2 separate regions of the Homo sapiens genome follow, and region 2 is linked to region 1. Evidence: fine-mapped expression QTL. Tissue or cell type: lung. Region 1 holds a variant in brackets; the other region holds the start of a gene. Each region is shown on its reference strand, or each on the opposite one.

Region 1 (5,387 bases):
GGAAAATAGATGGCACTGGCAACCTTATGAGAGTTATTATGGTAAAATAAATCAGAACAAACCATACTGTAGTGGCTGGAAGTATAAATAAGAGAAGTTAGTGACTCTGAAGAGGGCAAAAAAATAGGATGTGATGGGGGAAAGAATGTGAGTTACTTTTTCTGTGCATAGTATTTCCTTTATTAATATTTTTCTGGATAGATTTCATGTAACTGATGTACTAGCAAATCATATTAATATACTTAATATATTATTTTAAATCATGATATATTATTTACAATTATAATTTATTATTGTTTTAATTAATACTACTTTGGCTATCAGTAAGCTACCTAGTTTCTGTTCATCTGTTAGGGAGTAAGAGATAACTAATTCGATCCTTCACCGAAATAATTAATGATGATAATATAATGACACCTGGAAGTATTGGCCTTATTTGTTGTTAACTTGCATCATTGTCACACTGGTTTACTACAGTTCTTCTGCACCTTTACAATCCATCTTAATTTCTTGTAGTGCTAGATATAAGAATTCTTTTATGTTACACTTTGGTAATTCTTCCTGATTTCATGAATATTGTAGTCTTAGATCAATCCAGAAAGAACCGAATTACTATGGACATAAAGACTGACAAACATCCTTCACAAAATAAAAGTGGGAAACAATCAGAGACTTTCTTTCTCAATACGTAAGGTAAAGAAAAAAACTGGTCAACATCAAGTGAAAATACATGAACCACGCATATTCAGAGAGCAAGGAAGAGTTATGTATAATTCATGAATAAAAGGAGATTTAGCAATTATGACAGAAATCTGGAATACAAAACTGACAAAATCACCCATCAATTACATTAAAGAATTTGATACTGAAATTTCATTCTGCTGGGAGGTAGGTGTATTGTTGATCATTCTGCTTAATCTCTTTGAGCCTTAGTTTTCTCATAGAGCCTTAGTTTTCTCATAAATAAAATGGTTTCAAAATATTTATATAGTTGTGAGTATTAAAGGAACACATGCATTTTAAAGCACCTACGATAATATCTTTTATCGAATAAGGAGTTAAACTATGGTAGGTATTTTCCTATTTTTCTTCATACAGCTGTAGATGGTAATATTATTTGTCTTTTTATAAAATTCTTAGGAACTATGTCCTATATTTTAGTAACGGACCTCCAATGGAAGGAGATTAAGAAAATGAGAATTCTAGAGAGGCTGAAAAATTGTCAATCCTCATTTCAAAGATGTGTCCTATTTATATGCAGTCAGGGAATGGTGGCTGCTCCTTTTCCTGAGATAGGAGAAGAAGCATCTAGTTTGAACTGCAGAAGACACATGATGTTTATTGACTGATTCTGGCACCTGGTACATTCCTTCCCTGGCTCTCAGCATTCCAGGATGCAGTCTCATATCACCAGGGTTTCCTTGATCATTCACTCCCTTTATCCTTCTGCCCATTCACACAGAGCTGCTTTCTGTTCTGTTGTGGTTCTGGCTTCATGGTTTCCCTAAATAGCAGAAAAGTAAAAGTAGAAAGCAGAAGTTAAATAAAAAAGACAGTCCCCTGGGACCAAGTGTAACAAGAGCAGCAACCAAGACTGGAGGGCAGGTTTCTGATCTATGGAGAAATCCTACCAGTTCTGGAGATTTCTCTTTGTGCTGCAAAAAAGCTACTTATTGGCGAGAAGAGACGCTAATGTTGTCCAAGTTTGTTCCTTATCCCTGGTCTATTACAAAGAGAATGAGTTTCCAGGTACAGTCAAGGCATGGACTCCTTGGGATTCGCAGTGATAGGGACACAGAGATGTAATATCTGCCCACCCTACTGTGCAGAACAGTCTACTCCCCAGGATCACCCCATCCTCATACATTGGGACTCCAGGGCACAGGTAGGGCTGCCGTTTTGTATTGGAACTTAATACTATTCACAGAAACCTCATGTTTAATGGTGCATTAAACCAGCAGTACAATCTTAATTTCACAGATTTAATCCTAATATCAGAGTTCAAACATTAACAAATTAAAACATTTTCTCACTGTCATTTTGAATAATGATCTTTCCAGTTCTTCCACTCAACAGTAAAACCCCTGCCCAGTTAGAAAAAGGAAGAATTCCCATAGAAGCTAAGGAATGTGAAAGAATAGCATTACTGTTCCCTGAGAGCTGGCGAGGTCTATTTATTCAAATGTATCAATTTTGGTAGAGATTGAGAGGCATTCCTATAATTGACACCATATATTCTGGAGTTATTTCACTAGGAAGTGTGTGTGAATTGCTGAGGTAGCAGGGAGGGAGAGCCTACAACTGCACAGGGGCCTCTTGAGTCTTTTCCTCCAGCTACACACTCAACATCTGGATTTGCTGCTTTCAGACTGGGAGTTGACCAGGGCCTTAGACAAATTACAAAAAATTGTATTGTTTGCAGTCTTCTTCTGTCCTCTAGAGGGGAGGATGGAGAAATTTAGGAGTGACCAACGGGGAGGTAATTGAATCATGGGGGTCGGTCTTTCCCATGGTGTTCTCGTGATAGTGAATAAGTCTCATGAGATCTGATGGGTTTATCAAGGGTTTCTCCTTTTGCTAATTCCTCATTTTTCTCTTGCCAGCACCATGCAAGAAGTGCCTTTCACCTCCTGCCGTGATTCTGAGGCCTCCCCAGCCATGTGGAACTAACTGTAAGTCCAATTAAACCTTTTGTTCCTAGTTTCAGGTATGTCTTTATTAGCAGCATGAAAACAAAGTAATACATCTTCCCTCTCCTTTCTTTAAGCAGAAGGAAGGGTCTCATTTGGAGTTCTGAACTGTGCTTCCTGGGGTTACGGGAGAAGTGTTGCAAGTACTCCTTTAACCTTTGTTGCTGGTGTCTCAGTAGGTCACACGCCCCCTTCCTGTTCGCTGCCTCTGAACCCAGCTCAGCACTAGGAGTTGCTTAGAAATTACAGTCCTTGTGGCCTAGGCTGCCTTTCAAGTTTATTTAG[C/G]GTCCCAGAGCCCTTTAGTCCATGGTGGGGAGGTTTGCTGGAACTCAATCTCCCATCACTGGGATAGGACATTTCCCTCTGGCTAGGGCTGGTTCAAATGCTCCCTCTATGGGCAGGCACAGCTGAGTACAGCCCTGTGCTGCTTTCTGCTGTCAGAGGGCAGCCATGAATTTAAGGCAAAGTCTCACACGTACTGTACTCTCCCTCTCCCAAGTGCACAGATTCTCCATGCCATGTGGCTGCTGCTAGGGATGGAGGCAGGGTGGGGATGGCAATTCAAGACTGTCTTTCCTACCCTCTCCAGTGCCTCTTTTAGTGATATAGAGTTAAAATCAGACACTGTGAGTGTTCACAAGATTTTTGGTTCCTATGAAGATGCTCCCTTTGCATAGACAGTTGTCAAACTTGATGTTCCTACCGAGAGGGTGGGACCATCGATGGTGCCCTCCATTCAGCCACCTTGCTCTACCCTCCATAATGTCTTTCAAATGTTATAACCTCTTTCATTTTTTTCAATGCTTTAAAAAAATTATATTCAGGTTGTTGTAAAAGTTTTATGACTTGGCTCCAAACTGTCACCTTGCCCTGGAAATCTCTATAGCCATATCTTGCATCATATCCTGGAGTTATTAACCAGTTATGTGTTCTACAGTAGTCAGGAATCAAGCAGTGGGTCTGGAGGACCAGGACAGAGAGTGAAGTTGGAGGGCAGTGAGTGCTGAGATGCCCCACCCATTCAGGTCCCTCTGTAGTGCCAAACATTACTTCCCCCTACACTCCCAACCCAGCTGAGGTGCATCTAGTTTACCTGAGAAGGGCCACAGGGAGCATGGAGAAGCACTCCAGTTCCCATGGAGACTTGGCAAGGGCTAACCATGCAGCACTAGCTGGAGACAGCTAAGTTTTTAGAGCCTTGGAAGCAAGAGTGTGAATATGACCTTGTTTTGACCCCTCCTGCCAGGTGATTCATGAGCTGTGGGGGGTCCAGACCCACTGATGTCCAGTCAGGCCACAAAATGCAGTAAATGGAAGGAGGCCTTCCCCCATACTTATGACCCAAAGAACTGGTAAAGAATGCAGGAGCTCATCTGTTCTTATGTTTAGAAGTTTCCATGTTCTGATTCCCCTAAGAGGAGACTGCACCAGACATAGGACTCTCATTTGTTTAAAAACAAACAAACAAAACAAAACAAAAAAAAACAGAATACATCACAACACAAAGAAGTTGAAAAAAAGAGGAGCAGTCTGATATCTTGGAAGGAGAATAGAGATGTTTAAAACATTGACTGCAACAGTGGCAGGTCCTCAAGAGATGGAACTACGTGAATGAGCAGATGGAGTTAACTGTTCAGATCCTCTGATCATAGAGAGGGAGAGAAGATTGAAAGTGGATGAAGACTGAAGCACAGAGTCGTCTCACAGAGACATGGCCAACCTCAGTGACTCCAGCATGGGAGACACTGATAGACCACAGTAGCCTGCAGAGTTTTGGAAGGGACAAGCCTTATTCTAGTGCCAGCTGCCAACTGCTGTTTCCTCTTAAGGACCTAGCAAGTCATCACTCCACAGGGAAAATTATTCCATGAGGCCAGTGCAATCTAAGACATCTCTTAAATTTTGGTTATAATGCAGCCTCCTTTAAAACTAAAACAAAATGAAGCAATACCTGAACAGAAGGGACATATCAGGTATTTGAGTATAATTAGAGGCAAGTAGGGCAGAGCCTTCCAAGCAGGACAGATATTAGTAATGTGCATATTTGAAGATCATAATAACTAATGATAGCAAAGACCTTTGTCAATATTCATTGAATGAAAATAGTTGAAAAATAAAACATTGGCAGTTTGATTCCCTTTGTTTTCTTTCCAGTTAGTACATTCTGCGGTGAGTCAGCATATTTAGAATTTGGAACTCTTCCTGAAGATTAGAGTCCATAAAACAACAACAACAAAAAATCAAATTTAAATAAGTAACAAATTAGAACTATCAGCCATTAATGTATTATATAGCACCCTGTGACAGCCAATTATGAAGCTAGTGATGATGAAATCTTTAGAGAATCAGACAACTACAAACAATTCATCTCTTGTTGTATAAAAGGAAACTCCAATTGTGCCTGTTAAAGGAGTTATAATGAGCTCCGCTTGCGGTGATTTCATGTGAAGCAAGCTACATCCTGTACTGATGGCACTAGGGCACCATCCCAACTCCCCAGATGGCCAAGACACCTTGACAGGGATTATTGCCAGAGCATCTGGGTTATAGGGAAAAAAGTGACTGTTTTAGATGCTAATCTGCCATGTCACTCCTGATTAACCCCAAGTCTGGGAATGCCTCCAAGATATCTAGTTAATGCATTACTCTACGTAGAAACACCTATTTACTGTAAGTCTTACTTTTCCTCCATAATAA
Region 2 (5,387 bases), not on the chromosome of region 1:
TCTGTGCTTCTGTAACACAATATTCTTGCTCTTAGGAGATATAGGTTGAAGCATTTAGGAGTAAAGGGACATAAATCATGCAACATGCATTCAAATGGTTCAGGAATAAAAATACTCATGAAGGGCTGGGCGTGGTGGCTCAGGTCTGTAATCCCAGCACTTTGGGTGGCTGAGGTGGGAAGATCGCTTGAGGCCAGGAGTTCGAGCCCAGCCTGGGCAACATGGTGACATCATGACCCCCATTTCTACCAAAAAATTTTAAAAATTTAGCCAGGCATGGTGGTGCATGCCTATAGTCCCAGCTACTCAGGAGGCTGAAGTAGGAAGATTGCTTGAGCTTGGGAGGGTGAGGCTACAGTGAGCTATAATCACGCCACTGCACTCCAGCCTGGGTGACAGAGTGAGACTCTGTCTCAAAAACAAAACAAAACAAAAACCTCCTAAAATGTATAAATAGCAAGAAAATGAGGGGCAAATGTGGTAAAAAATATAATGGCTAAAAAGTCTAAGGAAGTTCTTTGTGTGCATCTTGTAAATTTTCTCAGCATTTCAAATTACTTCAAAATAAAGTGTTTTTTTAAATAACAAATAAAGCACAGGCTTTGGAGTCAGGCAGTGTGTTAGTGTGAGAACCTAGCCTGACAACTTCCTAGCTGTGTGATCACGGGCAAATGTTTCCACCTTTGTGAGCCTCCATGTTCTCATCTGAAAAAGGAACCTTAGGACTACGCCTGCCCAGCCTGCCTACCTCTCGGTGTTGCAGTAAAAGTTGGATAAGGGCAGGAAAGGCCCTTAATGAGCATGTGCATTAATCGAGGTTTTTCCAGAACTAACAGGGTATTTATATTTATTTTGAGGTATTTATTTTAAGGAATTGGCTCATGTGATTGTGGAGGCTGGCAAATCCAAAATCGGCAGGGTAGACTGGCAGGTGGGAGACCCAGGAAGGAGTTGCTGCTGCAAGTGGAGGCCAAGGCACTGCAGCCGAATTCCCTCTTCCTTGGGGGAGCTCAGTCTTTAGTCTATTAAGGCCTTCAACTGATTGAATCAGGCCCACCACCTTACAGATGATAATCCACTTTACTCAAAAAAAAAGTCTACCAATGTAAATGTTAATCTTATCTTTAAAAAATACCTTCACAAAAAGATCTAGGATAATGTTTGACCAAATATCTGGGTACCTGGGCTCAGCCAACTTGACACATAAAATTAACCATCCCAGTATGGAAGGGCCCTGGTCCCCCACTACATCTTGGAGATTTTTGCCTTCTCTGTGAATTATTATTGCTGGGCCAAGGCAGCTGGCTGGGAGTCCTCTGCGAGTTTTGTTTTCAAAGCTCTGGGCACAGGAGTTGCATGTCTGTCTCCTTTCTGGCTCACACACTTGGGGTGTGTTTTCTTGCCCTTGCGAGGCTGGACAAGTGCCTCATACGGTCCCTCGGCTGTCCACAAGTGTGCTGAGAAACTGGACACACAGAGGTTCCCACCCGCTGACCACACGGGGGCCTGTGTTTACCCAGAAGCAGACCAAAACCTGAGTCCAGCTAGGTCCCTGCTTTGCTGTGTGTCCCTGAGCAAGTCAGTTCCCTCTCTGGGTCTCTTTTTCCTCTCTGCCGCTTTCCCTGAATGTGAGTTCCCTGGCCACTGAGAACAGGGGGAAAGGGACAGAGCCTCAAAAGATGACCTGTGCGCCCCTGCTTCTAAGCACTTTGCAGGTATTATTTAATCATCAAGCTAATCCTACGAGAGAGCTGCCATTTTCCCCCAGCTTACAGATGGGGGAATTGAGGCGCGAAGAGGGCAGGCGATGTGCTCAAGGACAGACATCTAGCAGGTATGAAGCCCTCACAATGGGGTTCTAGAGGCTGTTTAGTTAACCTCAAGTTTTGGGGAGCCCCTGAAGGGCTGGTCACCACGCTGCCGGGGACAGGGAAAGCCTCTGAGCTTGAGTCAGTTTTGGTTTCCCTGCTGGGGTGCAGGAGTCAGTAAACCTTGCTGCAAGGGGCGGGGAAGAGCATTTGAGCTTAAGTTAGTTTTGGTTTCCCTGCCCCGGATGCAGGAGTTGGTAAACTCACTGCAAGGGGCAGGGCAGAGCCTCTGAGCTTAAGTTAGTTTTGTTTCCCTGTCCCGGATACAAGAGTTGGTAAGCTCGCTGCAGTGGGTGGAGAGAGGCCTCTAGACTTCAGTTTCAGTTTCCTGGCTCTGGGCAGCAGCAAGAATTCCTCTGCCTCCCATCCTACCATTCACTGTCTTGCCGGCAGCCAGCTGAGAGCAATGGGAAATGGGGAGTCCCAGCTGTCCTCGGTGCCTGCTCAGAAGCTGGGTTGGTTTATCCAGGAATACCTGAAGCCCTACGAAGAATGTCAGACACTGATCGACGAGATGGTGAACACCATCTGTGACGTCCTGCAGGAACCCGAACAGTTCCCCCTGGTGCAGGGAGTGGCCATAGTGAGTCCAGGGCTGAGGTTGGGTCTCTGGGAGGCAGGAGATTCCACGGCGGCAGCAAGGCCGAGCTACTGGGTGCTGGGTGCCTATTATGTGCGAGGCCCACACTTGGGTGGGATGTGGTGTAGGAGTCTCAGGCTCTGGAGCAGGCGCTTGCTCCAGAGCTGTGTGACACTGGGCAGGCTACTTAACCTCTCTGTGCCTCAGTCTCTGACTCTGTAAAATGGGGAGAGGCATAATACCCACTTCAGAGTATCGTAAGGCTTGAGCACATCATGTTCTTAGCAAAAGACTGGCAGTGCTCAGTGAATTCACTGTGATTACTCACTGCGATTTTCTTCTATCCTCTCCACAGTACAGAGGAGTAAACTTAGGGAGGCTAGAGAACTTTGTTCAAACTACCCAGGTTGCCTTGTGGTTTCTCCGCAGCAAGAAGGAGTGGCTTTTATCAGTTAGAAATATTTGGTTTTGTGGACACAAATCTCAGGACTGAGGCTGAAAATTCTGGACCTCTGGGGAGGAAGGGGGACTGGGGAGATGCCAGGACCCTAGAATTGGGGGCGTGGGGGTCCTGATGGCCCAATACTATCCTCTTAGCCTCCTGAGCTGCTGACGTCCCTTCTCTGCTGCTGCCACACTTTTTGGTCTCTACCCCTTGCACACATCCGCTAGTGCCTCAATAAAGAAATCTAGACACGTGGTGTCCCCAGCCCTGGCCCAGGCCAGCAAGCTAAGGCAAGTTTGGTTAATAGCTATTGTCAGAACTGGGATTTTAAGCCTGGGTAATTGGCTTGAGGGCATGCATGTTTAACCACTACACTATCCTGCCTCTCAATTTTTTTTTCCTCATGGAAGTAAAACAGAAAAAGTGCCCAGATCAAAGTGTCCAGCTTGATAGGTAGCCACAAACAATGTAACTGTGTAACCCCCACCCAGATCCAGAAACAAAACATTCTCAGCCCCCCAGAGCCCTGGGCCCCCGATCCAGTCAGCACCTCCAAACCCAGGTAGGCAATCTCCTGACTTCTAACAGCATAGACACGTTTTGCCTGTTTTTAAACGTTTTACAATTATAGGGTGACCAACTATCCCAGTTCATCCAAGATTGGGGTGTTTCCTGGGATGTGGGACTCTTGGTGTGAAAGCTGGGAATGTAAACCAGGATGCATGGGTGAACCCTACATAAATGGCATCATGGGCTCTGTGTGCTTTAGTGCGTGGTTTCTCTGACCTATGATGTTTATGAAATTTATGTTGTGGGGTACAGTTGTTTATCTTTTCATTGTTGTGTCAATTCCATTATGTGAATATTCCACATTTGTCCATTCTACTGTGTTTTTTTATTTTTACATAATTGTGCATATTTATATGGGGTACATGTGATATTTGGACACATGGATACAATGTGAAATGATCAGGGTAGTTAGGATATCCATCACCTCAAACATTGATCATTTATTTGTGTTGAGAACAGTTCAGATCTTCTCTTCTAACTATTTTGAAATATATAATAAATTATTGTTAACTATAGTCACCCCATTGTGCTATCAAACACTAGAATTTATCCCTTCTATCTAACTGTATGTTTGTATCCATTAACCAACTTCTCTTCATTTCCTCCTCTACTTCCCAGCCTCTGGTAACTATGATCCTACTCTCTACCTCCATGAGATCAACTTTTTTTAACTTCCACATAAACACATGCAATATTGTCTTTCTATGCCTGACTTATTTCATTTAACATAATGACCTCTAGTTCCATGCACATTGCTGCAAATGACAGAATTCCATTCTTTTTGTGTCTGAATAGTATTCTATTGTGTATATATACTACATTGTCTTTATCCATTCAGCTGCTGATGGATACGTTGGTTGATTCCATATCTTGGCTTTTGTGAATAGTGCTGCAATAAACATGAGGGTGCAGTTATCCCTTTTTTGGATAAATACCTAGTAGTGGGATTGCTGGATTGAATGGCAGTGCCATTTTTATTTTTTTTAGAAACCTCCATACTGTTTTCCGTAATGACTGTGCTAATTTACATTCCCACCAACAGTGTGTAAGATTCCCTTTACTCCAAATCCTTGCTAGCGTTTATTTTTTGTCTTTTTGATAATAGCTATTCTAACTGGGGTGAGATGGTATCTCATTGTGGTTTTGATTTGCATTTCCCTAGTGATTAGTGATGTCAAGCATTTTTTCATATACCCATTGGCCATTTTGTATGTCTTCTTTTGAGAAATGTCTATTTAGGCCCTTTGGCTGCTTTTTAATGGGATGGGTTGTTTTCTTTGCTGTTGAGTTGTTCACGTTCCTTGTATATTCTGGATATTAAACCCTTGTTGGAAAAATAGTTTCCAAATATTTTCTCCCATTCTACAGCTTGTCTTTTCACTCTTGATTGTTCCCTTTGATGTGCAGAAGCTTTTTCATTTAATATAGTCCCAATTGTCTATTTTTTGTTTTTGTTGCCTGTGCTTTTGAAGTCTTAGCCACAAAATACTTGCATAGACCAATATCATGAAGCATTACTCTTCTGCTTTATTCTATTAATTTTATCATTTCAGGCCTTATGTTTAACTCTTTAACCCATTTTTAGTTAATTTTTTATAAGATGACAGACGGGGGCCTAGTTTCATTCTTCTACATATGGATATCCAGTTTTCCCAACACCATTTATTGAAGAGAGTATCCTTTCCCTAATGTGTGTTCATGGTGCTTTCTCAATCAGTTGGCTGTAAATTTGTGGATTTGTTTCTGGGTTCTCGATTCTGTTCCTTTGGTCTATATGTCTGTTTTTATACCAATCCCATGCTGCTTTGGTTACTATAGCTTTGTAGTATATTTTGAAGTCACGTAGCATGATGCCTCTAGCTTTGTTCTTTTTCCTCAGTACTATTTGGCTATTTGAGATCTTTTGTGTTTCCATACAAATTTT

The links. PIP is the estimated chance that this variant, and not a neighbour inherited with it, causes the effect. A credible set is the group of variants that fine-mapping cannot tell apart.
Region 2: it holds the start of OAS2, and the variant in region 1 is the best candidate, but not a certain one, in a credible set for the expression of OAS2 in lung (TOPMed, PIP 0.81).

The regions. Positions count from the first base shown.
Region 1 is chr9:21,410,829-21,416,215 of GRCh38, forward strand. No RefSeq gene overlaps it. Among named protein-coding and RNA genes, the nearest start is that of IFNA8, 4.4 kb to the left of the region's middle. The variant C/G (reference allele first, on the strand shown) is at 2,976.
Region 2 is chr12:112,976,335-112,981,721 of GRCh38, forward strand. It overlaps OAS2 (2'-5'-oligoadenylate synthetase 2), which reads left to right and starts at 2,185. Exons shown (of 10, transcript NM_002535.3): 1 at 2,185-2,451. The coding sequence starts at 2,275. RefSeq lists enhancers at 1,730-2,539, 2,760-2,839, 3,010-3,089, 3,200-3,349.